Linked DNA regions of Homo sapiens: all the other regions are reported to be linked to region 3. The links are microRNA targets in miRTarBase. Many come from high-throughput screens and were not tested one by one. Region 3 holds a microRNA gene; each other region holds the end of a gene's coding sequence.
The links. The annotated mature microRNA hsa-miR-5009-3p reads UCCUAAAUCUGAAAGUCCAAAA and lies in region 3 at 3,746-3,767, opposite strand. An mRNA with a match to its seed (bases 2 to 7 or 8) in the 3' UTR can be bound and repressed. Matches are read on the target gene's strand: a 7mer-m8 pairs with bases 2 to 8, a 7mer-A1 pairs with bases 2 to 7 and ends in A, and an 8mer does both.

Region 1: the mRNA of ATP13A3 is a reported target of hsa-miR-5009-3p. Seed matches in the 3' UTR shown: 7mer-A1 at 885-891 and 7mer-A1 at 2,348-2,354.
Region 2: miRTarBase lists MEIOC as a target of hsa-miR-5009-3p. Seed matches in the 3' UTR shown: 7mer-m8 at 1,394-1,400.
Region 4: the mRNA of STOM is a reported target of hsa-miR-5009-3p. Seed matches in the 3' UTR shown: 7mer-A1 at 2,793-2,799.
Region 5: miRTarBase lists CCBE1 as a target of hsa-miR-5009-3p. Seed matches in the 3' UTR shown: 7mer-m8 at 1,246-1,252 and 7mer-A1 at 4,493-4,499.

The regions. Positions count from the first base shown.
Region 1 is chr3:194,401,643-194,406,749 of GRCh38, reverse strand. ATP13A3 (ATPase 13A3) reads left to right here. Exons shown (of 34, transcript NM_001367549.1): 34 at 634-4,073. The coding sequence ends at 831. Among named protein-coding and RNA genes, the nearest start is that of GP5, 4.9 kb to the right of the region's middle.
Region 2 is chr17:44,673,144-44,678,229 of GRCh38, forward strand. It overlaps MEIOC (meiosis specific with coiled-coil domain), which reads left to right. Exons shown (of 8, transcript NM_001145080.3): 7 at 223-403; 8 at 833-2,658. The coding sequence ends at 1,053. It overlaps CCDC43 (coiled-coil domain containing 43), which reads right to left. Exons shown (of 5, transcript NM_144609.3): 5 at 4,297-5,086. Among named protein-coding and RNA genes, the nearest start is that of CCDC43, 14 kb to the right of the region's middle.
Region 3 is chr15:89,880,204-89,885,310 of GRCh38, forward strand. It overlaps MIR5009 (microRNA 5009), which reads right to left and starts at 3,827; the gene lies at 3,728-3,827. The region is part of intron 7 of ARPIN-AP3S2 (ARPIN-AP3S2 readthrough); the gene reads right to left. The region is part of intron 3 of AP3S2 (adaptor related protein complex 3 subunit sigma 2); the gene reads right to left.
Region 4 is chr9:121,336,691-121,341,787 of GRCh38, forward strand. STOM (stomatin) reads right to left here. Exons shown (of 7, transcript NM_004099.6): 7 at 2,297-4,718. The coding sequence ends at 4,512. Among named protein-coding and RNA genes, the nearest start is that of STOM, 31 kb to the right of the region's middle.
Region 5 is chr18:59,431,320-59,436,426 of GRCh38, reverse strand. CCBE1 (collagen and calcium binding EGF domains 1) reads left to right here. Exons shown (of 11, transcript NM_133459.4): 11 at 286-5,107. The coding sequence ends at 519. Among named protein-coding and RNA genes, the nearest start is that of LMAN1, 75 kb to the right of the region's middle.

The sequences.
Region 1 (5,107 bases), not on the chromosome of region 3:
TTAACAGTAACAAGGATACTTGTACACAGCTTTCTTCCAAAAATGATCATGCGGCTAAGTTGCCAGGAGCAATAGTACCAAAAGATAGTTTGGGACAGAATGTGAAGATTTTCAAATTAAATATTAAAAATGTTTTCTCTTTCTGAATGGCTTAAAGTTCTTAATACATTAGATATTCTGTGGTAAAGAATCCATATCTGCAAGTTATTTAAAAGGTATTAGTACACAAGAGTATAGGTATATAAAACTAAATGAAGTCAATCATATTGATTATCCCCCCAAAAAAAATATAATCTAAAGAATAATCAGTTCCTAAATAATTGAAAGCTGCCCTTACAAAATAAAACAAAAGAACACACATTTCGTTGTGTTGCCCAGGCTGGTCTCGAACTCCTGGGCTCAAGCAGTCCTCCCACCTCGACCTCCCAAGATGCTGGGATTTCGGACATGAGCCACCACGCCCGGCCAAAGCTGCCTTTTTTTAACATGGATTTTTTTTTCCCCCATTCGTTGTGCTCAGAAGTCATTTCCTCTTATTTTTCTCTGCTAATGTGTGCTTTAACAAACCTGTTTAAAACGACAAGCCTTTAATCAACTGGGGTGTTTTGTTTTGTTTTTTTCTTATTTTCTTAGGAGTCAGTGGATCGGTGGGGAAAATGCTGCTTACCCTGGGCCCTGGGCTGTAGAAAGAAGACACCAAAGGCAAAGTACATGTATCTGGCGCAGGAGCTCTTGGTTGATCCAGAATGGCCACCAAAACCTCAGACAACCACAGAAGCTAAAGCTTTAGTTAAGGAGAATGGATCATGTCAAATCATCACCATAACATAGCAGTGAATCAGTCTCAGTGGTATTGCTGATAGCAGTATTCAGGAATATGTGATTTTAGGAGTTTCTGATCCTGTGTGTCAGAATGGCACTAGTTCAGTTTATGTCCCTTCTGATATAGTAGCTTATTTGACAGCTTTGCTCTTCCTTAAAATAAAAACAGAAAAATATATCGTCCTAACAGTTAAATTAACAATCAATCCATAAAGTCCTATATCTTCATTCAGCAACCCAAATATTACATACATTTCCAGAATTTTCTTGATTGTTACTTTCAGTGATATTCTTTATATTGGGTACAGGAGAAGTTTGGTGTTTGGTAGGTTTTTCAACATTAGTTTTTGAGACTAGTTTACCTCTTCACATTTATGCTCACAACCCTCTTGTTAGAAAAGTCTGTGTTTATATACAGGCTGTAAGTTTGTGATTGATAAAAAGAAGATGAGTGTTAATTAGCCTCCAGTGAAAATATACTGAAAGCCTGTTTTCATTTGATTCCAATGTTTCTTCCAAAGAATTCTGTATAAACATATGCCAATTCCCTATGATGGTCTAGAGTTAGGAATGAGTGTTTATGGTGTTGCTTATAGAACAACTCAGGTAATCTCCATTTCTGGTTTTATATTTTCTGTACAAACTGCCTGGGTTTTATTTTTCTAATCAGCAAGGTGCTTCACTGCCTTCTTGAGACGCCTCTCAAAGCTCTTAAATGGCTCCTGTGCTATGTGTGGTGTTGGCAGTCTAATTTGCTTCTGTTAAATGTTGTAGAACCTTTTTCACTAGGAAATAAGATTCATTTCTTTCGGCAGTAGATGTAGATTCATCTTTTAACGTTTCTTCAAATTTGTTTCTGTCAGGCTTTGTGTTATTTTAAATGGTTTTTTAAAATTTTCTTCTATGTTTTCAATTACCTAAAGACATAGGATAATAGTTTTTTTTAAGTTAGAATTTTACCTCATAAAATTTTTTGAGGTTTGATGTATGTCTCTGTCTTATCAATAATGAGGCTTAAAAAATACTGGATTTGAATGGCTGCCGTTTTTTCAAAGCAATATGAATTTGATGAGTTTGTTTTATGCCATTAGGTGGCGCCAGAGGTCAGAACATGTCTATTTTGAATTGGATCGTTACAAATGAGCATATTTGATGCGGAAATTTCTGGGAGAAAAAAAATTGAGGAAATAAAGTTAAAAAATTGACATTCATTGAGCCAAAAGAGATGTGGAGAAACATTTTTCACCTTTCTGTTTGGCCTGATTAACATTTAAATTCTTGCCAAAATTAAGGTAACTTTTAAAAAACACCTTTTATAGGTGGATCCAGCAGTCTGGCAACGCCCACAGTTACCACAACACAGAAAACTGATCGTGCTATAAAATGGACGCTAAACTATGAAAACAGTGTGACATTGTTCTCTGTTCTTCCAGAGCCAGTAACATGCTTGCTCGTGCTTTCTACTTCTAGCTGATCATTCTTTTCCCAACATATATTTACAAATTTACCAAATTTTACCTAGAATTTTAGGACCAAATGGTTCTCACTCTTTATGCTGCAAAGACCTGGATGATGTTTGGTAACTATAGAAAAATAGAAATTACACTCAGGATCACTGTTACTGCTATTGCCACTGATGATTCCTGCAAAAATATAATCGAAGTTTTCCATCAAATGTATAATATGCTATTAATACACATTAGATGATAACAGTTGTTCCATGAATGATTCTATGAAGCTATGCATCTTAGACCTCTTGAGCTGTGAATTAGCACTATTTTCTATAGTTACTTATTCTCTGGATCATTTTATAATTTCCATATTAATTTCAAATATGCTCGTGTTATTCTTCAGTGATTTCCACAATTGTGCATTTTATTCTTTGGTTTAAGTACTGAAGCATATAATGAAAGTAATTGCTAAGTAGCAGCTTAAAAATTCAATTATCCGATTGTATTTAACATCTTTAAGAGCATGATCATAAAGAGCTATTTTTGACACCCCCCCCCCACTTTTTTAACATTTAGAGTTAGTAAGGGTTTTATATCTCTTCTGTCCATATTGTTTTCAAAGGAATGAGGTGTTTAGGTGGCTGGAAAAGCATTTGTAGGAAGTTAGATTTGAATATAGACAAGGTGGGTTATTCACGTTGAGAATGTTATTTGAAGAATGCCTGTGAAGCCAGGTGTGGGTTCTACTCAGTGCCATAGATAGACTGAGTCTTCTCTCGTAGGTTACCATTACATAGTAATTTTGATTCTGAATTTCACATTAAATTATTTGAGTTTATACAGACCTAAATTTTAAAATCTGTACATATATTATTTTGATGTATTAAGATGAATATTGCTGATTTAAATTTTATTTATGCACATACTTAAAGGACAGAAATGTCTGGGAAAGTAATTGTTAAATAATGATATGTAACTTTTTAACTTTTTAAATAAATAACAAGATTTTTAATGTGTGTCTCCCTCAGGGTTGTTTAAAGTTTTTTTTCTCCCTCAAGTATAAATAGTGGTAACTATATGTTTTGTATCTTCTAGCACCAACTGCTGTAAAGCAATGCTGCAAATAATGCTTGAATACAAGTGGCTAAGCCAACAACAGAATAAATACTTTTATAGTAGTTTTATAATCCTGAAATTCGAAAGCTTTCCCAATTGCACTTGCATCTAAACAAAACTGTTGCAGTTTTTACTCTATTTATTTTGTTCCCCATGTTTATGAAAGTCCTGCACAGTTTCAAAGGCATGGTAAATAATATATCAATGTTTATGTAGTCTGTTACAGAAACAGCTATAGATAACATTATCCAGTGAAGAGCAAAATTCAAGCTTTAGAAAATATTCATGCATGCAATTTTGACATATCTAAAAATAGGTTTTTGTATATTTATGGTGGGAGGTGGTTGGGAACTTTTAACAAAATGGGGTGTTAATTTTTGTACAGTCTGTGGGCATTTACACATTTTTAATGTATTAAAATTTGGTAATTATGTGTACATTAAATTAATAAAAGTTACTTCTAGTTATGATTTGTGAATTCCCTAAGACCTTGGATTTTTTTAAGTAACTTTATATCAGAAATGATACTGCATCTTTATATTTTTAAAATTGTATTGCTGCTCAAGAATGGTACCCTCTTGTCAAAAAGGCATACATTCATAATTGTACATTCAGCATTGTAAATAATCTTATGAAACCTTTTTTGATTGAAGCTATTCAAAATAAAAATTTTAATGAATGAAATAACACTTTTTTTCTGTGTCTTTATTCATTTGTTTGCTTTTTAGTGACATGAATACTGCCCTTTGTGGATTTATTTTCCTGCCTAATAATACTTCCCCATTTCCTTCTTTTTTTTTTTTAAAAAAAACTGGATTTTGAAGGAAATAAGAACAACATTCTGCATATCATGCCATGTGTGTGAGCATCCTGGGGAAACCCCACAGTCGGATGCAGTGTAGAGCCAAATGTTAAATGCGAGGAGGTCTGAGGGCAATGGTGAAATGAAATAGAAGAGTAGGGACTTATAATCTATTAATAGTTGGGAGAATCAAACCAAAAGCTAATACCATGGAGAGAGAAAATGGTTGTAAAAATCCCAGAGAAGACAGGACCTTTGTGTGTGGGTGGGAGTTGTTTCCATGGAGCTCAGCTCCGGGAGACACGGAGCCCCTGCTAGGGAATATGTGGCTGGCTGTGGTGTGATGAATTCGGGGGGTGAGGGCCTGCCTGCCTTTAGCTCAAGTTCTTAACAGTCGCTATGGTTTGTGCGGCATGTGTGATCCTGTCCCCACAGCCTGCTGGTGTGGGCACAGTTCTGCATGTCTCTCCTTCCGCTGTATCACTGCCAAGGGACAGGGAGTCCTAGGGGCTTGAGTGAGACTGTCCGTGGTCCAAGTTGGGGTGTGGTTGCTCCCTGCTGTGCCCGGCCCACTGAGTCTCCCTCAGAGGAAAAAGGCTTATCTCACCCAGGCACAGACCTGCTTTTGAATAGCCAAGCCCCTTAAGCCAGGTAACTGTTTTACAGCAGACTTCTGACCTGGTAATGGATACAGAATCTTAAGACTTGGAAGCACTGGAGCTGTCAACTTCCTTGCTCCAAATACTTCTCATTACCTCATCAACTTGCTCAGTGGATGGACTAAGAGTGTTCCCCCACTCTGCAACTGCCATACCTACTTTTCCCTTCCTGGACAATCAAAGTGTCTTCCTAAGGGACAAAATGTAGAGGCCATTCTGACTGGAGGTTTTCCTGGGGAAATAGGCTAAAGAAGGGC
Region 2 (5,086 bases), not on the chromosome of region 3:
AGTAATCAACTACCACATATTTTTAGAATTAACATAGACAAGTAGATAGAAAACACTTTCCATTTTTGTTTCCCCCAGCATGGTGTCAGGACACAGTAAGCATTCTTTGATTTATTGAATGAATATTATTGCTGTCATCTCTATTCTGCTTCACTGAAGATTTGTTTTTACTTAAGTTAATGGCAGGACATGTCTTATCAAAATTTAAAATGCTTCCCTCAGGTTGTGACTTTACTAGGCAAAATGGAACGTCTTCGGAGTTCTCTTCTTCATGCCAGTATCTCTACTGCTCTTGATAGACACTTGGAGTCTATTCACATTGTACAGTCACGTAGAAAGGATGAAATTGTTAATGCTTCCAATCGGCAAAGGCAAGGAGTTCCTAGATGCCAAGATGACAGAGGTACAAATATTAATGCATATTCTTGTGATAAGTCAGTGTGATAATTTAGGTATTGATAAAATCAGATTCTGAGGTTGAAAGATTAGATTTCTAAAATTAACACTTACCTACAGAATAAATTGGTAAATAATCTCCACATTATTTACTCCAAAAGTATTTCCATTTTATTAATTTTGTCTGTTATAACTGTTTCAAGACAGTCTGTGTTCTACTCAAACTATAGTCACTATTGTACAAGTCAGAAATAAAGTATCAATACTTTTAAATATTTTAATGATAAAGGACAGGACTTTGGTTCAATCAATAACTATCCTTTTTTTACAAAAATAACATTTGATCATTTAGTAGCAAAAGCACTGGGTTTTGTAAGATTTAACAGATATTTAAATGGCATTTAATATGAAATGACCCTGAATGTTTATTTTACAGATGTTTTTGCCCTTGCTTCTGCAATTAAAGAGATGTGTGTGGCTACTCGGAAAACACGCACTGCCCTGTGGTGTGCACTGCAGATGACCTTGCCAAAAACAGCCAGTACAGCTGATGTGGTAAAGCCTTTACAAGATACAGTAAACTGTGAAGATAAAGTCCATGAAAGCATAAATAGTAGCAATCCAATGAACCAGAGAGGTGAAACAAACAAACATTAAGGAAATGCCAGCAGAAAGAAGAATAAAAAGCTGATAAATATACCAAGACATGCTAAAAATGTTTTAATGAACTTGTCAAACTTTCAGTATGTTTTCTTTCAGATTTAAAGTTAATACCAGTACCTTAATGAAGTCTAACTTCTATTTAAAAATCTTCTATTTGAAGTGAATCCGATATAGTTTTAAGTAAACGCAAAGGTACAGTTGACTACTCAGAGTTCTGAGTAGTCAGATAACAAGTTTAAGTAAATTAAATATTTCCTAACAGCTAAAATGTGCTTAAACTCATTCTGCCATGCAGGTAAATGCAAATGTGAAATTCTTCTAGGAGATAAATTTCATTTAGGTTTGTCTTAGTTAAGTATAATTCCAAATAATGAATCTAAGTGACTGTAACCCAATTACGGCTACAGCCTAGTAACCAAGACAAGTTTTGATTGTGATATCAAAGTGTTTTCCTTACAAAACTGGATAATACCTGGGAAACAAAGGAAAATACGGATAAACCCAATATTCATGTACAAACTTAATATTTAAAATACTATACTACCATATTTATAAATTTGGAATCTTAATGCCTAGGTATATGGAGGGAAATGCATCTGATTCTCCTAAATTAATGATAAAAGTGTCAGTGTAAAAACCATGCAAGTTACTGAATATAAAACCTATTCAGATCATTTGTGTATATTCTTTAAATTTTAATTATATTATCAATTGTTAAATGTTTCCAATTTTAAAGTTATTTAAATTGAATCACAAAACATTCCCTTTATCTGGATCTTTTAGACTTGATGCACAGTAACTGAAATAATGACTACTGTTTTAATACCCTTAGTTTGCTGCCTTTTATGAGGGTGTCACGAAGTTCTAAAATGTATTTTTTTAAAGGTTAATCTCTAACTAGTTTAGCTTGCAATTGGTTAGTGTATATTTTGTGTAGTTGTGTTCATTAGTTTGCTTCTAAGTTCTAAAATGTATTTTTTAAAGGTTAATCTCTAACTAGTTTAGCTTGCAATTGGTTAGCCTATATTTTGCGTAGTTGTGTTCATTAGTTTGCTTCTGTATTTTTTTAAAACTATTGAAAGCTTAACTTTTTCTGTTTCTCATCACTTAGTATCTTTGTATAGAACTTGAGTAATTTATTCGTTAATATGAAATGTTGGTATTATGTGACTCAGAAGATCTTGGGTTTTAACATTTCTAGCATGAGTTAAACTATAATGTACTGATGAAATTTAATTGAAATATCCTTGACTAGAAACACTGATGTTTTAAATGTTAGTGTTTTTCTTAGTTTTAGAAATTCTGGTATTAAAAAAAAAAAGAGTGTAATCATACCACATAAATTTTCTTTAGATGATGTGCAGAAGAAACTGATTGAGAATGCAAGAGTAACTGTAGGGAGAAACATTTTGATCACTGATATGCCTTAGAACTACCCAAATGAATTACATTGAGGGTAGTCAAATAAAATAGATCATCTCACCACAGTCACTGCATAGAAAGTGGTTAAGTTTAACATAAGACATGTTGGATGTTATAAAAACAAATACTGTACTGAATTTAGTCTCAGGAAAAAAATAAATTACTTTGTTGAAAACATTTGGTTTCATTTTTCTAAATTCATATGTTTCTAACCTTAAGAGTCACTCATATCAGAAAGTCAAATGAATTTCATTTAAGAACTTATACTAAGTTTTAGATTTCATTATTAACGCACAAGTAATAATGTTGGTTTATAAATCAATGCCATTCAGATATCCATGGATCTAACCAGATCTCCTTCAAAGATGAAATTTTTGCTCTATCTTTATGCTAATCCGTGTAAACCAGAATAAAAATTTTAGGGAAGCTTTTACATGATACTGGTCAGAAATGAAATACCAGTCCGTTAATAAGAACCAAACACTTAAAAAAATTCTTTGAAATATTGTTAATCATATCACCCAATAGATAATTTTTAAATTAGTCGGTTGTCCCTTTCAGTGGCATATCCTCTAACAGATGGTTCTTATGTACTTGTATTTCTGAATTACAACCTATAAAACATTGTACTTCTGAATTACAACCTATGAAAACATTATAAAACTTTTACAAAATTTGCAGTGAAACTGATAAAACTGATGCTCCCGCCATTTCTAATCTGAAAGAACTTGGTGTACTCATTCTTTTTAATGGAAAAAGCAAAATTACCTTGAGTTGTTATCAGTGTCCTTCTCACTTGAATAATCTGCTACTATAAAGTTTTAGAGGGTTGAGAATTTATGACTGAAATCCAAAATCTGGCCTAAAACTCAATCTTACCATAGAAGATATGGTTGTTTAAAATTTGCCCTTTGCAGCTGGGTGCCGGTGGATCACGCCTGTAATCCCAGCACTTTGGGAGGCTGAGGCGGGTGGATCACGAGGTCAGGAGATCGAGACCATCCTGGCTAACACGGTGAAACCCCATCTCTACTAAAAATACAAAAAATTAGCTGGGTGTGGTGGCACTCGCCTGTAGTCTCAGCTACTTGGGAGGGGGAGGCAGGAGAATCACTTGAACCCGCAAGGTGGAGGTTGCAGTGAGCCAACATGGCGCCACTGCACTCCAGCCTGGGTGACAGAGTGATCCGTTTCAAAAAACAAACAAAAAAAATATGCCCTTTGCAATACTGAACATTTTAGACGTAAAGGATTTATTAGCACCTGAGTCAAGTGGATAACTAAACTCAAAGCCTAATGAGCTGATCCTCTATTTTCTGTTTAAGCATTAGTTTGAGAGTATACTTAACTGTGACATACATAGCAGAGTCCCAGAAGAAAGAACTGACTACTAACAAATTGAAACAAGTACCCTTCAGGGGACCGTGGATATAACCTGACTCCTTCAGTGACAAAAATCAAGGTGAGAACAACCCAAAATCCCAAAATAAGGATTACTAAATTAAAATAGGCTCTATCATACCCTATCGCTACCACCACATAAAGGACTAAGACTGTAATAGTAAGGACCTCTAAGCCAATTTCCTGATGTTCCAAAAAACATGCTAATCTTTCTGATCTAATTCCTACTTCACAAAAAGGAAAATTGAGAAAGAGGATTTATGGATTCCAGGAAGAGCTTCCACTAGTGGAATATAAGTTATAGGGCTAATCAAAACAAAGCATAAAATAAAAATCAACACATTCCTAAGTAACTACTCACACATATTTCATTTCCATGGGTACGTAGAAGCAATCAAAATAAGTCAGAAGACAGCAATTTAAATAAGATTTATTTTTTTAAAGGTGGTTATTTTTATTTTTTGCAATGCCACAGTTATAGGAGTGTATGAAGAGGTAACATGTCTCCTTTTCCTTAACCATGTTTTTTTTTTTTTAACCTTCTGCACAAAGGTAAAAGTTTTTGTTAATCTCATAGTTAATGGTATAAAACAGAGATTGGCAAACCTTTCCTCCAACAGGCCAGGTAGTAAATATTTTAGATTTCACAGACCACATATTTTTTTCTTTTATAACTCTTTAAAAATGTAAAAATCATTTTTAGTTTGCACCATACAAAAACAGACTGGGCCAAATTCGGCCCGTGGGCAGTAGTTTGCCAACCCCTGGTATAAAATATCTACTTTGTCTTGTCAGAGAAATTGCTGTCCTTAGGCTTCTAGACAATCTGCTGCCTGAAGTCAAGTGGAGAAGGGCCTTATTTACAATTTAATGTGGTTTGTGACAGAAGTAGAAATGGAGAGCTTCTGCTCACTTTTGACTCTCCCAGTTTTTCCATTCACTCATTCATTCAATAAATTTGTTGAGCACCTACTATGTACACTCTTAAATATCTTGGTGTTAGCAGAAATTTCCAGTGTTTCTTCCTTAAAAGGGTGATTTCTCCAGTTTCTCCAAACCAGGAATTATTTCTTAATACTCATGTTTTATGGAAAAATCAGGATTAAAATCTCTACCAGCACACAAGAGGATACATGATTATACAAAATGAATCTAGCCAACAATGATATCCTTGCACCCAATAGTGACACAGCCTAGATGAGGA
Region 3 (5,107 bases):
ACAAGAGGGAAATGCTAACTGTTAATTCACTTCTAATTATAATTATAATCCAACAGGGACTTTTTGGGACCTTTACAAATTATTCAAGAATACATATGGATGAACAAATAGTTATAAATATCAGAGAACGTACTGAAAAACAACTGCCACAAAGGGGAAATAACTAGTCTTACTAGGTATGTGAAACTATATTGAAACAATAAATAGCCAGGTGCAGTGGCTCACGCCTGTAATCCCAACACTTTGGGAGGCCGAGGTCAGGAGTTTGAGACCAGCCTGGTCAACATGGTGAAACCCCCGACTCTACTAAAAATACAAAAATTAGCCAGGTGCGGTGGTGGGCGCCTATAGTCCCACCTATTCAGGAGGCTGAAGCAGGAGAATCGCTTGAACCCAGGAGGCGGAGGTTGCAGTGAGCCGAGATTGCGCCACCGCACTCCAGCCTGGGCAACAGAGCAAGACTCCGTCTCAAAAAAAAAAAAAGAAACAATAAATAAAACAACATGAAAGTAATGCAGAAAGAAAAATGTAACTCAGTTAACTCAGTAGAATAAAATGAAGAAATGAAGGGTAAAAACTAAATCCAATTATGTATTAAATGTTTATTCAACCATTGTTAAAGGTGTGATGACTACATGCTAGGAACATACCATTGTTGACACCACAGTCAACAAGTCATGTTCTTATCCAGTTTATATTCTGGGTGTGGGAAGAACAAGGAGGCAAATGAAACAAGATATTTTCTATTGTCCTAAGTGCCCTGAAGGAAGTAAACAGGATGATGTGACAGGGGTTACTTCAGATAGAGTGCTAAGAAAGTTTGTCCAAGGATTAAAATTCGAGCTGAGACATAAATGGTAAAAGTCAGTCATTGAAAGAGCTGAAGTGAAGGAACCTAGATGAGAGTATTCCAGGGGACAGAACAAGTATAAAGGCCCAGACACAAAAATGTACTTGTGTTTGAAGAACAGCAAGAAGCCTAGAGCATAGTGAAGATGAGCGTGTATACGGTGAGGGGAGAGAGAGGCAAAGGAGCCGGACCATGTTGGGCCTTACAGGCTGTAATAGGGGGCTTGGGTTTCACTCTGAACTTAATACAGTATACAACATTAGAGTTTCTTCAACAAGGGGAGGTAAAAATGGATTATTTACACTTAATATAATAGGTTAGACAATAATTAGTTAAATAAGTTTTAAAATAAACTCAAAATACGCAGATTTACTTATTTGTTGATGATAAGGCAAACCATTATTTTATCTAACAAAGAAAAAAAATGCTGCCAATTATAATTGTTAAGATGTCACCCACTACAACACACATCCAGATTTTAGAGTTATTGAAGTGTGATAAAATGCGCACCTTAGAATATACAAAATATGACATTATAAGCCAGGATCTAGATTTCACTGGACAAGTGGTTCAATTATATTATAGAAGGCTGACATGGAAAACAAAATTATAAACCCACACGTGGAAAAAGGAAGCATGATTAATAAAAATTCAAATGTGTGAGGTACCTCTACCTGGGTAGAAATTTAAAATGACACATTTCAGTACTGGAGTTACAAGGAAACAAACTTATATAGTACTAGAGGCATTATAAATTAACATACTCTTCATTTTTTTTTTTTTTGAGATGGAGTCTCACTGTTGTCGCCCAGGCTGGAGCGCAATGGCACGATCTCAGCTTACTGCAACCTCCACCTCCCGGGTTCAAGCAATTCTCCTGCCTCAACCCCCCAAGTAGCTGGGATTACAGGTGCATACCACCACGCCCGGCTAACTTTTTGGATTTTTAGTAGAGACAGGGTTTCACCATGTTAGCCAGGCTGGTCTTGAACTCCTGACCTCAGGTGATCCGCCCGCCTCGGCCTCCCAAAGTGCTGGGGTTACAGGTGTGAGCCACCGTGCCTGGCTAACATACTCTTTCTAAATATCTATCTAGCAACATGCATTATGATTAGAAATATTAATTCCCTTTGATCCAGGCATTCTGTTTTTAGCAGAATAGGCACAACCGTTTGCATAAAGACTTAGAGTAGTTTTATTCATATTAATTAAAAAAAGAAACAAAGTATCCAGTGTCTGTTATCCTAGGTGCTCTGCTACCTGAATCAGCTGAGAACACTCATTTTACCCCCCTGTTCTGCTTTGACCTACTCTTTTTTTTTTTTTTGAGACGGAGTTTCGCTCTTGTTGCCCGGGCCAGAGTACAATTTCAGCCCACCACAACCCCCGCCTCCTGGGTTCAAGAGGTTCTCCTACCTCAGCCTCCTGAGTAGCTACGATTACAGGCATGTGCCACCACACTCGGCTAATTTTTTGTATTTTTAGTAGAGACGGGGTTTCTCCATGTTGGCTAGGCTGGTCTCAAAGTCTCCTGACCTCAAGTGATCTGCCCGCCTCGGCCTCCCAAAGGACTGGGATTACCGGCGTGACCCACTGTGCTTGGCCAAAAGCTACTAATTTCCATATGTTAAACTTGTATTTAGTCACCTTACAGAACTCTATTATTAGTTCCAATTGTTTCCAACTGATTTGGATTTTCTAGATAATCAATTCATCTGTAACTATTATACATTCTGAAAACTAGTAAAGCAAATCTCCCATCACTGTCCTTTTTCCCTAGAAATATACTTCTGCATTTCTTGGCCACTCCTTTTCCCTGATAAATTTTGCCTTTACTGAGTTCTATAAACTCTCCTGACGGAATTATACTTGGTTTTCCATTTGATGTATTGCTCACCACCTTTGGGACTACTGTCATCTTTGCTTGACTCTTCCCAACAACGGGAGAGTTTGTAGCTCCATTTGTTCCAACTATTCCTTTGTTTTTTCTTTAAGATTTTATAATTTTATTGGAATCAATGTCAAGTATTCCATACCAAGTTAATTCCCAAGCACTAACTATCCTTTATTATTACTGTAAATGAGACTTCTTTAATTATGAATTTTCTAGCTGTTTTCTCAGAAATAGGAAATTTAATTTTGTTGGCTTTATCTCATATTCTGTCATTTTGCTCATATCATTTCCTTACTTATAATTCTTTAAAAATATTTTCTATGTCCATAATCCGGCCACCTTACATTGATAACTTACCTCTCTTTCTTTCTTTACTATGTCACTTCTTCATTTGTTTTTGTATCACTCACTACAAATGTTTGTTAAAATTAGAGTAAACAATAAAAGATACTCCTTTTTTTTTTTTGAGACAGAATCTCGCTCTGTCACTCAAGCTGGAGTGTAGTGGCATGAATATGGCTCACTGAAACCTCAACCCCTTGGGCTCAAGCAGTCCTCCTGCTTTAGCCACATGAGTAGCTGGGACCACAGGGGCACACCACCTGATTTTTTATAGAGACTAGGTCTCACTATGTTGCCCAGGCTGGTCTTGAACTCCTGAGCTCAAGTGATCCTCCTGCCTCAGGCTCCCAAAGGGTTGGGACTATAGGTATGAGCCACTGCACCTGGACGAAACACCCAACAAGAGCATTCATAAATGCCTACAGATTTCACCCTTGAGATAACATTGGCTCTGGTTCTTGGCTCTTGGTTTTGAAACTAAAATTGATTGCTTCAAGGAAAGTAAACTAGGTGATAAGGGGAAAGGGGAAGAAGGATATTTTTCACTATACAGGTTGAACACTTAAAATCCAAAAACCTGAAATCCAAAACACTGCAAAATCCAAAATTTTTGAGTGCCAACATGATGCTCAAAGGAAATGCTTATTGGTCATTTCAGGTTTTGGACTTTCAGATTTAGGATAAGTATAATGCAAATATCCCCAAATCTGAAAAAGTCCAAAATCCAAAACACTTCTGGTCCCAAACATTTCAAAGGGATATTCAACCTGTATACTCATAGTGTGCCTCTGAATTCTGAACCACATAACTATATTCATTTCTTCAGAAAGTAAACAGTTACATTAATAAATGTGTACTTTTAATCAAAAATGCTTCTTATTCCAGTTTGAGTGTATTTAATATAATTTGTATAATCGCTCCTCTCAGCAACTACTAATTTTTATTATATTAGTTTTTCTTACTGCTATAATAGACTATTAATTTTTCTTTGTTATACTGACTTGCATTCTTGGGATAAATACTATTTGGACACAATGTATAATTCTTCTATTTAATAGTATGCAGTTTTCCTGCTAAAGAAATAATTTTAGGGCTAGAAAAGAATATCTAGTATCTTTGTAGATTAAAAAAAAACCACTCAACACACAGAAGAGACAAAATGCAAAACAAACAAAAACCCTTAAGGCCAATAAAGCCTAGATGATTTGTTTAAGGTCACACTGCTTGTTAATGGCAGAGTCAAAAAGAAAAAAAAGGCAGGTCTCACAATCCCTTGGTTCAACTGATTGTCGGCTAAGATTTTACTTAGTAAGTAATTTTGTACCAGTACTAATACGCAATATTTGACGAACATCTTCCCCTTTTTTTTTTTTTTTGAGATAGAGTCTCACTCTATCACCCAGGCTGGAGTGCAGTGGCGCAATCTCGGCTCACTGCAACCTCCGCCTCCCAGCTCAAGCGATTCTTCTGCCTCAGCCTCCCGTGTAGCTGGGACTACAGGCGCATGCCACCACACCCAGCTAATTTTTTTTGTATTTTTAGTAGAGACAAGGTTTCACCATATTGGCCTGGCTGGTCTCGAACTCCTGACCTCGTGATCCTCCTGCCTCGGCCCCCAAAGTGCTGGGATCACAGGCGTGAGCCGCTGTGCCTGGCCCATCTTCCTTTTTAGAGTCAGGTTTTTGGATGATAACCAATTTATTCCATAAAATGCGCTTAGGTAGTAGGATTCCTTGTTCTAAGTTTTAAAAAATAACTTAATGTAACATCCAGGTTTTAATGTACTTCAACTTTAAAAAATTCTACTGTGACCCCATTAGGGAGTCAGTTCTTTTTTTAACATCTATTATTTCATCCTAATATTATTTCAGTGCCTTTATGTTGACCTCATTTGGGCAGTTTTTTGTTCTTGTTTTTTTTTTTGAGATAGAGTCTCGCTCTATTGCCCAGGCTGGAGTGTAATGGTGTGATCTCAGCTCACTGCAACCTCTGCCTCCCAGGTTCAGGTGATTCTCATGCCT
Region 4 (5,097 bases), not on the chromosome of region 3:
GAATCTTTTAGGGAAGATTTGCAGCCTGCATTATGATTACTATGTTTCTAGAGTTTATTGTAAAACCACAGTTTTAACAGCGGCTTCAATTTCCTTTCTCACTAAACTCTTCTGGCTACAGGGTAGATTGAAAGGGGCTGTATCCTATTAGCCAGTGTGACTGGTTTAGGCAAATCCTAGCTTGATCTGAGCCTGGGTCTGCTGTAGACCTGATGTTAACAACATCACAGGAAGAGATCATCACTAATATCCCCGGAGATTTTCCTGTGGCCTGGTCAACACAGCCAAATGAGATTATGCATGGACATGAAAAAAGCTGTGTAAAGTGTCTTGCACAGTGCTGGCATTCAACCGTGGTTCCTTTTGCCTTCTTCTTGGTTCCTATAAAGTAAAAACTCTTCAGGTAACTGCATAGCTGTGTAGTTGGATCTTAGACATGATCTAGCCCAGGATTTCTTAAGTCTTTGGATAGGTTTGGGAGTGGGGCCAGTGTACCCCCAAAGCATCCAAATTTGTGTTGTGCACACTATGTGCAGTTTTCAGACGAAGCTCTGTAGCTTCCAACACATTCTCAAAAGGTCTGAGACCCAAACAGCTGGACTATAATCTCCCTGTTTTACAGGTGAGGAAAATGAGGCTGAGAGAACATATGACTTATCCAAGGTCACATTATAAAGTGGATGCTATAGCAAGGAAAGCACTCCAGAGCAGTGATTTTCAAACAGAAATATGTAGAATTCTATGAGGTGCTTCTGTGATTTTGTAAATATTAGATTCAAATTCCATGTTTAAAGTGGTAATAAAAACAGACAAGCAAAATGGAGAAATCGAATGTAGACTCTGAATATAAGATTGGAACTCTTTCGTAACTCTAATATTGTTTTTCAAAACAGCCTCATTGTTCTCATTGAGTTACTTTATATTCAGTAAATGTTATAAATGTGAACTCAAGAATTTATCCTGGCAAAAGACACCGTAAACCTTTTACTGATGCAGTTACCTTTGAAAAAAGGGGTTTGCTGCTGAAAGTAAGAGGAAGAGGCACTTGATTCACTATTTACTAGCCAAGTAACTGTGAGAGCAGGTTTGTGAGTATCACAAGAAATGATATATTTTAAAATGCTACATAAGCTGAGAGTCTATGGAACACTGGTTTCCTCCTGCTCAGGACAGTGTGTTATGACATTTGTGGTTACAAATGCCCAATCGGGCCGGGTGCAGTGGCTCACACATGTAATCCCAGCACTTTGGGAGGCCGAGGTGGGCAGATCACCTGAGGTCAGGAGTTCGAGACCAGCCTGGCCAACATGGTGAAACCCCATCTCTACTAAAAATAAAAATACAAAAATTAGCCGGGCGTGGTGGCATGCGCCTGTAGTCCCAGCTACTCAGGAGGCTGAGGCAGGAGAATCGCTTGAACCCAGGAGGCAGAGGTTGCAGTGAGCCAAGATCACGCCATTACACTCCAGCCTGGATGACAAGAGCGAGACTCCATCTCAAAGAAAAAAAAAAAACAAACAAATGCCCAATTGACTCTCCTCTTTTTATAGTGAACTTTGGCTGAATTGGATGGCCCAAAACAAAAGTTTAAGTTTAGGGCCCAGTTAGGTGTGAATGTAAAGACAAATGAACTTTGATAGTCTTGGGAAAAGTTGTGATCTATCTACAAAATGGTGGTGGTGGTGTGTGGATGGGGGCACTAGAGGCAGGCAGTGTCACACGAAGATACACTGATACACCTCACAAATCTTTGGCATTAGACAGATCTGGGTTTGAATCCCAGCTCTGTTTCTTTCCGACCATGTGACTTTGGCTGTTTTAACCTTTGAGCCTTCAGTGTCCTCATCTACAAAATGGTGATAATAAAGTGTCTATCAAACCATTTTGAGATAAAATGATAGAATGTACATACACGTATTTGTGCACAGAGCTGAGTGACTGGTGCTCCCAAATGGTAGCCACTAATTCAAGACAGTTCTGTCAGATGTTGCAGGTAAAACACATTGGTTTTTTATCATTATTTGTTTCTTTTTAAGTAAAGGCTATGTCTATGTGATTAACTGGGTGACAGCAAGAAGTGGGTTCCTGTCCTGTTTGGAGGAAGGCAAAAGAAAATGAAGTCAGTTAAAGCTTTGTGGTGGTGGTGGAGGGTGTGTGTGGATCTTGAAACTCCCCAGGGAAAATGTGTGGGCCAGTGCACCAGAGGGTGCCTGGACCTGGGAGACAGCAGATGGCCCACAGCAGCCTGTCCCCTTCCCCTGGCCCACAAAGCACACGAAGAAGCCAACCAGCCAGCTCAGAACCGGAGGATCTAATGTACTACTTCTGAAAACGGAAATCCACAGACATTCAATACAGGCCGAAACAGACTCTCACCCCAAAAATATTAGTGAAAGTGCATACACTTTATTATGTACATTGTTGGAAAGGGAGGCCACCTGGAGAAACTTCTGCACTGGCACTGTGTTCCTAGAGCTCCTTCTATGCGTCCCTCCCAAGTGATTTAATTTCAGCTGATTGGACTACGAATTCACAAGGCAGAAAAGTCAAGGTCATTTGGTATCTGGAGACAGGAGAACTCAAGGAACCAAAAGCACTGTTACTCTAAGTCTCAGAAAAGGTTTTCAGTCAGGATATGGAGGCTCCTGGTCCTCAAGGGTGAACCACTTCACACAACAGATAAAACCATCATTTTAAAATTCAAAATGTAAGTGCAACTTGAGTTTAAGTTGCACTGCTCCATACCTCTAATAAACTCAGCTAGGAGCCAGGATACATGGTAGTTCAAGGCTTCCTAAAATAAGCTTGAAATTGGGGTACAGGGGAAGGGACATCCATTGGCTGGATGGACAGAGTGGTTGAGCTAAAGAGAGCTATAAAGGCTCGTGCTGGGAAAGAAAGCTGTTATGCTTAGACTTCTCTAGGTGAACTCAGAGTCTCAAAGAGGAAATGTTACAAATGTCACCCGCCAGCTTTCTGGCCAGTAAGCAGAATGCCAGGTTGCTCAGATTCACAGACATTTGCAAAACAGAAGATGTCTCCTAATATTATAGACTAAGAATTTGTTGTCCAGAGGAGCTGACCAGTTCCTCTTTCAGCATCAATATACATGATAGAAGAATGACTAGGTAAATTTAAAAAGACCTACATCTATATAGATATTGTAAGTTTGACAGTATCTGCCCAAGATCATTAGACACTATATAGTCAATATACTGTGAATTCCTTATACTATGTAATGAATGGGTTTGTAATCAACATATTTCACAGTGTACCACAGTTAACAGCATGCAGATAGTAAAATATAATGGTTTCCTGAAGTTATCTCTTAAAAAAGTATTTTAGTCCTTCAGCTATTCAAATAGATATATAACAATTGCATATAGAACGTAGAGAAAATTTTATTAAAAAATTAAAACTATTTAAAACCTGATATATGAAAATAGGCAACAGTGAGAAAAAAGCACTTTTGTGACAAATATTTAGCTGGTTTGAAAGACAGAACAAGGAGGAATCATTTACTCATAAAGAAGGCTCAAATAAGTTAAAACATGGATGTATTTTTAAAATGACCACTCTAGTAGTGAATTTAAAAGTCTTTTAAGGGTTAGAGTAATCTTTTTCATTAGTCTTGGCTATTTCCTCTAGTTCTGACAAGTACAGGCAAGAAAATGGCTACTCTCAAGTAAGGATTATTCTGAAACACGGTCTGGATTTAGAAAATAAATGAACATTAGGGAAATTTCCTTAATTAAGACTCTCCAAACCAGGTGTGGTAGCTCATGCCTGTAATCCCAGCACTTTGGGAGGCAGAGGTGGGTGGATCACCTGAGGTTAGGAGTTCGTGACTAGCCTGGCCAACATGGTGAAACCCCGTCTCTACTAAAAAACAATAATAATAATACAAAAATTAGCTGGGCATGGTGGCATGAGCCTGTAATCCCAGCTACTGGGGAGGCTGAGGCAGGAGAATCTCTTGAACCCAGGAGGCGGAGGTTGCAGTGAGCCGAGATCATGCTATTGCACTCCAGCCTGGGCAACAAGAGTGAAACTCCATCTCAGAAAAAAAAAAAAAAAGACTCTCTGGAGGTAAGGCACATATGACCTGGAGAAGCTGGTTGTGGTGTAAGGTCATCACTTTCTGCAAAGCATTTAGCCAGTCAGCGGTGTCAGGTGGCAGTTACAGCCCAGGTTCTTGCCTCTGGCCTGGGTGCTTAGGGGGTTCAGAATGAGTCAGTGGAAGTCAAAACAAGAGGGATCTAACCTACTACATAATAATCTAAAAATACAAACTTTTAACTATTTTAAGACTAACAGATTACCTTATATAAATCACCAATCTCTCAGTATTTACAAGCTAACAATTCTTTCACCTATTTTTATAACTGCTATACATTCTGGGAACACCACAATTGACATATGGAAAAAGAAAAGCCCTACCCTCTCTTTATGAGTTAAAGGCTAATTTGGTCCCCGACTTCATGCTTGGAAGGCTAGCGCTCATCTCTACACTAGCCTAGATGGCTGTGTTTTGCCCCTATGATTCCTTGCAGCATATCTATGGGCAGAGGGAAGACAATTGTTGAGTTTTTCTCAGCAGCAATGGTGGTCAGTGTCTGCAGGTATCGGAGCTGAAGGGCTGCAGGAGATTCAGTGATGACCATGGAGGCTTCTTTCAGAGCCCTGGATGCATTCATTTCTCCTTCGGCTGCAATAACCTATGGACAGGTGAAAGGAGGGGTTGAACTGGAGAAAACCTCATGGGGACACACAGCACTCTTCAACCGGGGGTATGTATACCTCAGGTGGTCCACAAAACTTTCTAGGGCGTATGCCAGAGTAGTTTTAAGAAAATCAATTTCTACATACTCAGTTTCCATATGCTTCTTTTTCTGAAACTGACTTGCCTGACTAGTGCCTGGATCAAGACATTCTCTTTTACTATAGCCTTTCTCCCATTTTCCAGGGTAACAAACAAAGGGATAATTCAAAATACTGTGCAGGATTGAGAAAGCAAGTAACTTTAATGACTGCAGGCAAATCCTTTTGCAAGTCAGCAGCATTTCCAATTCTCTGATGAGTACCTTACTAAACTGA
Region 5 (5,107 bases), not on the chromosome of region 3:
AAGTAACCTAGGAGAGTTATTCTTATATCCTTTCCTCTACTGGATTTGATAAAGCGTTAGGAGGGAGGAAAGGTGAATACATCACCAAAGCTCAGCTGAGAAGTGACAGAATTAGAAAACAATATGGAGGACCCCCAGGCTCCTGTAGCAGTCCTCACATTGGCTCCATTTGGGGCACAGAGTTATTGAGAAAGTAGTTGCCAGCAAGCAGCAGGTCAAGTCATGGAGCCCCGGAGGCCATTGCTGTCTGTCGTATTCTAGCTTTGATTCCTCCCATGTACACAGGGACCCCCTGGTTCTTTCGACTTCCTGCTACTTATGCTGGCTGACATCCGCAATGACATCACTGAGCTGCAGGAAAAGGTGTTCGGGCACCGGACTCACTCTTCAGCAGAGGAGTTCCCTTTACCTCAGGAATTTCCCAGCTACCCAGAAGCCATGGACCTGGGCTCTGGAGATGACCATCCAAGAAGAACTGAGACAAGAGACTTGAGAGCCCCCAGAGACTTCTACCCATAGCACATCCCAACACCGTCACGCCAAAGGAAGAGAAAGATCAACTCACCTGCAGTTAAACCATCTAAAGAGAAGAAAGACCACTGGAGACCTAGAAAACATACATTTTTCTCTTCTCTTCTCCTGACGTCTCTCCACTCCTCTTCTTCCAAATACGATGCTATTTTCAGAGTCCCCTCCTAGGCCTGCAGACATGAGGGAGTGAATGATTGATTTACCTGCTTCTCACTAAGAGTCCATTGGGGTGGTTTGCATTGTAACTTTTCTTTTACATCCTATTTTTCCAGGAACTTTGGATTTAAGTACTCTCACAGTGTCTTAAATCATAAATTCTTGAAGTTAAATTTGGCAGAGTATCAAAAGGGGGAAAATGACAAAGTGAGCTCTAAGAAAATGTGAGGCTACTTCTAAGATGTGTGTTCACAATAGACCATAACTCCTCTAGTATCAAAATTGGGGCTCTTCAGTTAAAAAGGGGTGGGGAGGACAAACGTGTCGATGTGCTTTGGTGGAGAATTTTTTCCTTGTGCTTCTAGTAGACTTTAAATATTGTATCCCTTTGTCAAACCTTGTTTCCCAAATTCAATTAAAGAGAGGAGAGAATTGAATGGCGTTTAGAGAAGATAGAAAAGAATCACAGTCATATATTTACTGTTATATAGATTGCCACATTCTAAAATTCAAATACGGTGCTTAAGGTTTCATGCCATGCTTATCTGTAAGTATCCTATTTAGGGAAGAAGATTAAACTCTCTTTTCAAAAAAACAAAGTGAAATGCCTGGATTCACATTAAAACAATGGGCTCTCGTTTGCTATAATATTTTAAAGCTGTTTAATCAACAGTGGAGTCTGCTCTATAAATATAGATTATTTGTTCAATAAACTGGCTGAGCTTAGAGAGAGGTGCAGAATTCCTGGTTCTGAGCAGGTGCCCAGAAGGTACCATTAGGTGCCATGATCCAGGCTGAACCAATATACAGTGGGGCTGAAGTCTGCAAGGAGGTTGCTGGCTTGGGCTGACCTCACTAATGCCATCAGCAGCGGTAGGTAAATTTTTTCTCCTTGGGTATTACAAGTTTTTGTCTGGAGCCAACCAAGCTTGCCACCAACATATTGAGAGTAATACACTATTGAAAGTTATCTTGGATGGGGAGAAAAAAAAATAGTGGTTTTCCTTGTTTGCAAAAACTTCCTTCCTATTCTCATTTTTTCTTAATTTTCTTTAATTTAGTCCAAGTTCCAGTTCTTTTAGGCCTTCTCTTTGATTTATTTTCCCCTGCATGTGAGAAGCAGTTCAGAAAAAGGTCTATATCTCCACCTCCTAGTGAGTTAGAGTGTTTTCTCAGAGCACCTCTGGGTGGCAAAGGGAAGCATGTTCCTGCCAAGGTTTGCTGTGGATTCAGAAGCACCAGGAGCAAGAGACCAGAAGGATGATCTGCTCCTTTGTAACGTTGTTGAGGGCCCTCTTGTTTCCAATGAGCAGCTTATAGGTTACTCACAGTCCACTTTCTCACTGGACACACAAAGTGGCTCTTTATCTACCTTTGCGGGAGATTTTCACTCTCCTGCAAATGATCGTTCTCACACTCATATTAGCTCATGTTGGAATTTCCCATCCTGCCATGTCCTTTCCCATTTCTTTTTGGCTTTTTTGCCTCCACCTTTTAGCCCACATCATTTAACTCCACTACTGTGAAAGCTTGCTTAAAGAAAATCCCTCTTGGCCGGGTGTGGTAGCCCACGCCTCTAATCCCAGCACTTTGGGAGGCTGAGGCGGGGAGATCACAAGGTCAGGAGATCGAGACCAGCCTGACCAACATGGTGAAACCCTGTCTCTACTAAAAATACAAAAATTAGCTGGGCGTGTTGGCACACACCTGTAATCCCAGCTACTCAGGAGGCTGAGGCAGGAGAATTACTTTAACCTGCGGGGGGAGCCTAGATTGCGCTACTGCACTCCAGCCTAGGCAACAGAGGGAGACTCTGTCTCATTAAAAAAAAAAAAAAAAAAAAAAAAAGGCCGGGCTTGGTGGCTCATGCCTGTAATCCCAGCACTTTGGGAGGCCGAGGCGGGCGGATCACGAGGTCAGGAGATCGAGACCACAGTGAAACCCTGTCTCTACTAAAAACACAAAAAATTAGTCGGGCGTGGTGGTGGGCGCCTGTGGTCCCAGCTGCTCGGGAGGCTGAGGCAGGAGAATGGCGTGAACCTGGGAGGCGGAGCTTGCGCTGAGCCGAGATCGTGCCACTGCACTCCAGCCTGGGCGACAGAGCGAGACTCTGTCTCAAAAAAAAAAAAATATCCCTTTTGTTGTGTTTGAATGCCACCTTTCAGTCTTCTTCCTTAAGAATGTTAGGAAGGGGCTTTGCAAACCTCTAGTGGCAACAGTCTTCCTTCCCTTCTTCCTACCACGTTGGAAATGCAGGACTCATGTCAGTCAGCATGTGACCGAGTCTTTCATGAACACTTTGCTCCTCTATGTCTCATTTATGCAAAATTCCTGGTGACTCTCCACTAACATTTTTAAAGTGAAAGCAAACTTTCACTTTAAAAAAAGTGAGCGAGAGGATCCCTTGAGCCCAGGAGTTCAAGGCCAGTCTGGGCAACATAGCAAGACCCCATCCCTAAAAAAAAAAAAATAAGTTTTATTAAATGTGGCACTTTCCCCTAGAAGGGCAGTAACCCCAGGAACCAGTCTGCCTCTTTTCGAATAAAGGAGACTTTTTAAAAAGAAAAAATTTCTTTTTAGGGTGGGGTGCTCTTTATCTAGCATCTTTCCTTCCTCCTTCTCTCTGCAAAATTCAACATTCATGACAGAGGGCCACACCAACCACGGGTTTATAGAGAGAGGAACTGAACAGCTGTTGATTCCCATCTGGAATATATTTAATGTTTGCCTGCTTGTGGAGCATGGTATTTAAAGGGTGTGGATGGATGAATGTTTAAAAAAAAACACACAAAACTATGCACAAGCTGTATGAGAGATGGCTAGGTCCATCTATGATTTTTTTTAAAAGAAGAATTTTAATACCTTTTCTTTGACAGTGAACTGTATTTAGAAATATGATCTTTATTGTGAAATGCTCATAAAATGCAACCAAACTGCATGTTTGGCCATAGGCTAGAATAATATATTAAAAGAATTAATGGAAAGTAGTATTGTCTGGGTTTCATGAAACTATTCCAGATAATATTCTCCAGCAAAACTTATGGTAACCTGTATTTTATAATGTCAATCTGCTGGACCAAGTTAATTTAGAAAATAATTTTTAATCCTCAGATTTTCAAAACTTGGACTACTGCAAGACTGATATGTACTTTTTATGCCCAAATCATATTTTTCAAAGATAGGACATCATAAGGCATCATTATTTCTAATGTATCTTTTAACTAGATAGAAAAAGCTTTACTGTCTAAACAGGACTTCTGCTCAAAACCTAATGGGAAAGCTATTTCTGGGGTAAGATTTGTAACAGTGCTTCTAGGTCATTTCATGTTTTATAGGGAAAAAGATCTTTGTACACCTCCTCAACCTGTTAGTAGAAATGTTGACTTCGATTTTTTGCACCCTCTTCACAGGACCTCATAAGTTGCCTCTGTTCTTGGAAAGCAATGGGAATAAAAATATGCTGTTGAAAATAGTGCATGGGGCCAGGCACAGTGGTTATGCCTGTAATCCCAACACTTTGGGAGGCTGAGGCGGGCGCATCATGAGGTCAGGAGATCAAGACCATCCTGACCAACACGTGGTGAAACCCCATCTCTACTAAAATAAATAAAAAAAAAAATTAGCCAGGCGTGGTGGTGCACGCCTGTAGTCTCAGCTACTCGGGAAGCTGAGACACAAGAATTGCTTGAACCCGGGAGGTGGAGGTTGCAGTGAGCCAAGATTGCGCCACTGCACTCCAGCCTGGCTACAGAGTGAGACTCCGTCTCGAAAAAAGAAAATAGTACATGGAGGGCATGCATTTTAGTTTAGGAAACCCCCCTCCCTTCCCAGTTCCAGAGGGAGAAATTATAAGCTATACTGTGCCAAAAGTGAGTGGGGCTGCAGAGAGAATGGTGCCTTTTCTCACCTTCTGAGTTAATGCCCGACATCTGCCATTGGATTCATTGACCAAAGGAAGTCATTTCTACTGTATAAACTCAGGAGTATCATAGCCCAACAAGTAAATAATAAATGTTCATTGGTTTTGGAAGGAAGGAAAGGTGAGTATTACCCCACCAAATACCAGCGAAGAGCACCCTGGCTTTGGCCATCTTTCCAAGGTTCATAATTGCTGTGGGCCTGGTGAGCCCTGTTCCCAGGTATGCAAGGGAGGGCTTCTCCAGGCCAGACATTTCTGTAGGTTTTCAGGTAGCAACTCCCCCATCATATTTTGGGTGTCATTCCCCACTCTCTCTCCCCACTTCTCAGCCTGTGCCCCAGAAACAACCACAGCAGCCTCATTCTGCAGACTTAACATCTGTCAAATAACCTTCCTGAAAAGGAAAGTTATTGGAGGAATCCAGGCCAAACAACAAGTAGAATAGAGCCATCTAAAGTTATTAATAATGAGTTCAGGGAAATAGATGAATTTTTTCCTGGC